Linked DNA regions of Homo sapiens: region 2 is reported to be linked to region 1. The links are microRNA targets in miRTarBase. Many come from high-throughput screens and were not tested one by one. Region 1 holds a microRNA gene; the other region holds the end of a gene's coding sequence.

What was found. The annotated mature microRNA hsa-miR-650 reads AGGAGGCAGCGCUCUCAGGAC and lies in region 1 at 1,412-1,432, opposite strand. An mRNA with a match to its seed (bases 2 to 7 or 8) in the 3' UTR can be bound and repressed. Matches are read on the target gene's strand: a 7mer-m8 pairs with bases 2 to 8, a 7mer-A1 pairs with bases 2 to 7 and ends in A, and an 8mer does both.
Region 2: miRTarBase lists SESN1 as a target of hsa-miR-650. Seed matches in the 3' UTR shown: 7mer-m8 at 1,760-1,766.

The regions. Positions count from the first base shown.
Region 1 is chr22:22,820,835-22,824,222 of GRCh38, reverse strand. It overlaps MIR650 (microRNA 650), which reads right to left and starts at 1,447; the gene lies at 1,352-1,447. It overlaps LOC105372948 (a long non-coding RNA gene), which reads left to right. Exons shown (of 4, transcript XR_938047.2): 4 at 2,587-3,242. It also overlaps IGL and IGLV2-8.
Region 2 is chr6:108,984,902-108,987,901 of GRCh38, forward strand. SESN1 (sestrin 1) reads right to left here. Exons shown (of 10, transcript NM_014454.3): 10 at 1-2,729. The coding sequence ends at 2,643. It also overlaps a transcript of ARMC2 not described here. Among named protein-coding and RNA genes, the nearest start is that of ARMC2-AS1, 62 kb to the left of the region's middle.

The DNA of each region.
Region 1 (3,388 bases):
AGCCTAAACTATATATGATAATAGCTGTATTTAACAACTGGCTCAGAAAATTTAAATATTGGACCCAGCTAATGTCCGAATGTGTTCTAAATCAATTCTCACCATTAGATTATTAGGGATTCCAGGTACAAAAGTATTGACAGCCATGAAAATTAGAAATGCTCGATGTCCATGAGGAAGGGAGGTGGACTCAGGTTAACTCTTTCCTGTGGAGCCATTTTGGAATCCCCCATCCTATGGGAAGACCGTCCACTTGTGAGGAGTTTCCAGGACAGGGCCTCAGCGATGTGAGGGGAGGAGAATTCTGCGAGAGCACTGAGCCTGTCACTCAAAATCTCCCCAGCTCAGCAACCTGAGGAATTTCGGCAAAGAGCAGGAGCAATAAAAAGAAAAACAGCAGCATCCTCTTTGTTCTTAATCCCTCAAAAACATCTTCAAGTCTTCTTAAAGTGGTCACTTTAAGCTAGGAGGGCCATCTTCATTAGAGCGTGGTGGACACAGAGTGGAACAAGATGCAATTCCTGGAAACTGGAAGCCATCCCCCTGATGGCTTCTGTCCAGATTGATCTGCATAGTGTGACAGATGGGGGATGCATTTAGAATGAGGATGTTCCTGAAAACAGGAGGGACTGCACCAAGCAGTAAACTCCTTGTCCCTACGTCCCTGCATTGAAGAGCTAGGAATAGTTGCACGTTAAGGGACCAGAGCACACAAGCAAAAGGAAGTTGCCACAGTCCTGAACGAGAAATCACGAGCAGGTTTCCTTTTAGACCTCATGGTGGGAAAGGAGAGGAGCTGAGAGAGGAGAATTGTCAAGGCCATCCTGCAGGAAACCCTTATACAGCGTGAGGAAGCATCTGCAGAGCAAGAAGGGGGCCTGAGAGCCCAGGGCAGGTTTTGATCTTACTTCCTCATTGACTTAAAACACTGTGGAAATTGTTGCTGCCTGCATATGAGCTGCAGTAATAATCAGCCTCATCCTCAGCCTGGAGCCCAGAGACGGTCAGGGAGGCCGTGTTGCCAGACTTGGAGCCAGAGAAGCGATCAGGGACCCCTGAGGGCCGCTTACTGACCTCATAAATCATGAGTTTGGGGGCTTTGCCTGGGTGCTGTTGGTACCAGGAGACATAGTTATAACCACCAACGTCACTGCTGGTTCCAGTGCAGGAGATGGTGACTGACTGTCCAGGAGACCCGGACGCGGAGGGAGGCTGAGTCAGGGCAGACTGGGCCCAGGACCCTGGAAAGGGAGAAACACAGTCTAGTGAGTCAGTGCTGGGCCCAGGTGAGCCTGAGGAGCAGGAGACCAAGGATCAGCCCAGAGGTCCCTGTGGCCCCTTCCCTGGAGGCATCACCTGTGCCCTGAGTGAGGAGGGTGAGGAGGAGCAGAGCCCAGGCCATGGTGGTGACGTCCTGAGAGCGCTGCCTCCTGAGACCCCAGCACTGGGCCTGCCCCCAGCCCTGTCTTATCCCCTCTGCCTCAGAGAAGGGCGGGACCTCCATGCAAATCTGCATCCTGAGCTCCTCTTCTCACCCCACCCTCACTTGGGCCTGGGCTTAGAGACTTCTGCTTCCCTTGACAGCGGGGCTCAGCCAAGGAGACTAAAGTCCCTGATTGTCTATTCTGATGACAGGAAGTTGATTTCTTTGCACGTGATTTGCTCAGGAGAGAAAAATCTGCTGAAGCCCCTCACCTGAGTGAGCTCTTGGCCCTCAGTGTCTCTGCTGTGTGGTGCCTGTGTCTCTGTGACCCTCCAGGCCTGGGCACACCTCGAAGTAACCTCTTTCTGGCACTCATTGCCAGGTTCTCTCTATTCTCAGGAAATGGGGCTGCCCAACCCCACTGGAAGCCTCTGCTGGGTGGCGTTGGTCCCTGGTCTGCCCAGCGGCAGCCTCGTCCCATCCCCACTCCCATGCTTTGTCCTGAAGCATCTGCACCATCAAATCCCTGGAGCACATCAGCCACCCCAGGCAGTGCACCCACATCCACACGGGCACATGTGGGTGGGACCCTGTGAAGGGAACAAGGAGCACCAACCAGGGCCACAGTCCTGAGCCTGAGTCCGCTGCTCCCAATCCTGCCCCTCCCACTCATGAGCAGGTGACTTGTCCTTCCCAGCCTCTGGTTCTCAGCCTGATAAATGGAGACCACAGAGTCCGTTCTGCATACAGGTGATCCATGGGGATATGAGCCAGCAGGGAAAAGGGAAAGTTTGCTAACAGGCCTTTCTATGTGCACCAGAGTGATGTTATCTTGAAAGGTTTATTGAAAGATTTACTTCCATTTTACTGTGATTTATGTGTCAGGTCACAGAGATGCACGTTTCCGGCTTTCTTACTTTCCCCCATCTGAGCACATCCTCAGGACAACCTAAAGCTGACCTCTCTCAACCCTTCGACACTGAAGACACACAGACATTCAATAAAGACATTTTTAGTTTTTCCTCCAAATGCGTTTAATCTTTCTTCATCTTTCCCCATTGCCTATGATGCAACTCTTTTAATGTTCCATATTAAAATAACTATTAAGGGATTCAGGTTCTATTTAAATATTGTAACATACACTATCCTGTCTTCCCATCTAGATTGAGCTATAAAACCATGACAAGTGCATGGAGCAGCTATTTGAGCACCAGGAAAGGAAATGGTACGCAGCAGTTTGGGATGGCCCCAGCAGATGAAATACAACAGAGTCAGTGTGAGACTGCTGGATTTCCTCACTGTCCCCTGGCTGGGACTCCAGACAGCCCCAAACCTGAAGGGGCACAAACCTGAAAACAAAAAGAAGTCCAGAAAGCCCTCTTGTTCAGGATCGAACTTGGGAAAGAAAACTTATTTGGCTCAAAGTGAAGGCTCAGTCCCCTGCACAAGCAGGTGGTTCACACCTGTGTTCTCATCTCTCTTATACCAGCGCCTCTCCCTGGGTTCACACTGATGTCCTATGGATGGAGACGGGGCTTCCTGCACCAGGTCACTCCACAGCCCCTGTAACCTGAAGCCCTGCAGACCAGCCTTGTTCAATCACAATGTGATGTGAGCCTCATGGGAATCCCACTGTCTAGTCATCATGTTATAAATACAAAGAGAAGAAGTCAATGAGTTTAAATAATGTATTTTATTTACCTAGCATATCAAAAAGAGTATCATTTTCATATATAATCTAAGTACAATTATTTATGATATATATCATATACTTTGCATGGCTATTGTTATTATTTTTTGAAGAATCTTTATGTGGAGATTGTGTGGCTGATGGAGATGTGAATGGGTTTCCTGTTGACAAGGGTGGGTTGTGGTGGCTTTTTAAGTGTCAACTTTGATAGGCTGGAGGAGGGGTGGAAAGAATGATTTTTTACACAGGATGTGGAGGGTGGAGGTAGGCAGTGT
Region 2 (3,000 bases), not on the chromosome of region 1:
TCCCAATTGGTTTCTAGAGTTCTCACAAAGATATTCTGGCCCATATATTGTTAACTCAGCGTCTCTGGGAGAATGAGGACGTGGAGTTCCCAAGTCCATCATCTTGCTGACATTACTCCCATCTACCAGTGTTAGCAAAAAACTAGTATGATGATTCATATATGATATTCACATATACAAATATGCTAGTAACATTTCTGATTCATGTATGATATTCACATATATGAATATGCTAATAAAATTTCAGAGTATATTGATAAAAAGTGCTTATCCAACAAGTTTTACTTATCTACTTATCTCCTGGTGGTCTGTATCAAAATCAATCTCATTCTTAGAGATGATAAAGTTTGGCCTAATAAAAAATTTTCCCAAATACGGCCAAAACAACTCAAGATTTTAACTCTTGAATCCTGGGACCCTCAACCAGAAATCTTCTCATGATTATTTTAGAAGAAAATTTTCCTCTGGTTGGGGAAGGTTTTGATATCCCCAGTGTAATGTACCTTCCCTAATTATTTTGGAAACTACTGGTTTCAAAGATTATATAGTAACATTAGAAATCCTGTGTGTTTAGTTTTGAGAAAACACTCCAACAGGAAGCACCTGCTAAATGGAAGGCATTGAAACATTAACTTTGTATCACATGCACTTTTATTACTTTAGGTATAAACATATTTTTTAACTCATTAAAATTTTGATTTCAATTTCTAAGTGATTATAAGTTCCAGTGGACTAAATGCATTCTAGTTGATCTTGTTTTGTGATCACTCTACTGCTGATTAGAATCTCTACTAGAAATTTTGTATTTTCAAGAGGAGGAACAAAGAGCAGAAATGGGATAAGTAAAATTTTAACTATCTTCTTGGGTTCAATTGTATTGCTCTGGTGAGAGAACTCAGCAGCAGGCAGAAGAGGACAAAGGCATGATGCATATTCAATGAGTAATGCACTTATAAGTAAGTTTCTTTAAATATAAAACATATTGAAGATAATAATACTCTATTCCTAGCTAAGGTTATAGTCTTGTCTTCTCATGAGAGTAAATATCCTTGAGGACAGGTACCACCTCTGTTCAAAATTGATCCTTCCCAACCCCTACTTCCACACTACCCCATACATTTGTAGGCAGGCACTAGATTGAGCTCAATAAATGTTTTGAGGAGTAACTAACAGAGTTATCATCACAACAGCTTCAGTTAAACTTAGAGCTATTTCTACTTGTCTGATGAGTGTCATTTTTTGTTCTGTAGTCTCTCCCTAATGAATCCTTCTTTTTAGTAATTCTTAAAATTCTATTGGAACTCTAAAACAGTTGAAAAGAGAGCAGGCATAGGGCCATACCAGTCATTTCCAAGATAAAAATGGTCTCAGATAAGATTCTAAAGAAAGTCCACTCCTCTTTGTATGTTTCAAAATGGCTTCAAGTGTTGTTTTGCCATTTAAGTGTGAATGTACTTGGCTTATGAAAGTAGATAGAAACTCAAAATTATTACTAATAGTGAAGTCATGATTTTTTAAGAGATTGAGACAGCAAATAAAATTGGAGAAAAATTCTTCTTTATTTAAAAATACCAGTAATACTGACAGACTTCAAAAGCAATTCACGCTTCCAGAATACAAAGTACTTAATACATATTTTCAAACCTGTTTGCATTTCAAACAAAGTTAGCGTTTTTGTAAATCAAATTTGATAACCCGACTAAAAATATTTTCCAGCTTTATTATTTAAGGAGCTGCACAGCCTTTAAAGTGGGGACCAGGAGGCAGGCAGAGGCAGAGAGACTGAATGCACCCAGGACTGCGCAGCAGTCTACAGCAACATGTCCCACAACTTTGGTGCTGGAAACACAAGTAATGCACAAGACAGCTGCCCTCCAGTGTCAGGATCCTGTGAAACAGCATATCAAAAGATCGCCAGCTTCTTATAATTTACACACTTTCATTTAGGATTGCTTTTTGAAGAAAATCTTTAAGAATGCCATTTTAATTTAATATCCAGAACCCTGAATTTAAAAAACTAATGAAAGAAATTAACTGTTACCATCAAAATGGTTGTTGCTGAGCTGTGTGAGTAGGAATTCTATGCTTTTTTAGATGCAAGAAAATTAACACATAATGCAAGTTTAATTTGAAATCACACAAGTTATGTATGTAGGCTCAGATAGTAGCAATGTTCACTTTTATTACTAATAGCTTAACTGAAACAGCCATCTATTCATTCCTCCAGCAGGAATAGCAGCACCAAGATCTTCTAAAATTCTTTACATATAAAGCTTAAGTCATTATCCAAGTCCCATTCTTTGCATGCTCCAATTCTTGTTATCTTATTTAACATAAAAGCAACAGGATTTGGAGAGTTACTATTTGCTGTATTAAAACAGTTACACAGCATCTTGTACTGTCAAAAAGCAAAATACTGTGAATGGCAGCCTGTCTTCACAGCTCTAAACTTGAAGCTGCCAAACAGTCACTGCTTGTGCCAGCAGTGGTTTTCCACAGAAAAATAGCAGAAACTAAAGGAATCATGGCACAATGGATTTCTGAATTATTTTGTCTACCATTGGTCCTGGGGCTTAGTACCTTCCCCCTTGTAGACTATATCTGCTGATCATTCCAGAATCATCTTTAATGAAGGAAAGGCATCAGGTCATATAGCGGGTAATGGCTCTCAGAGCATAAAGGAGTTCTGCTTGCATCCTAGCTTCTATAAGAAGCAGATTAACATGAACCTGAATATAAAATACAACATCATATAAGGAAGGGTTACAAGCATTCACAATCAGTTTTTCAGTGAATCTAATGAACACATAAAATAAGTACACTTCCTACACTTCCTATGTAGTACAGCATAACTTAGCCTTGGGTTTGTTGAACAGATTATAAATTTCTCAAAACAGCAGCTATCTTTTTTTTTTTTTTTTGATGCACACTTTCACTCTTTCCCAGGCTCGGGTGCAGTGGCACGATCTTGGCTCACTACAACCTCCACCTCCTGGGTTC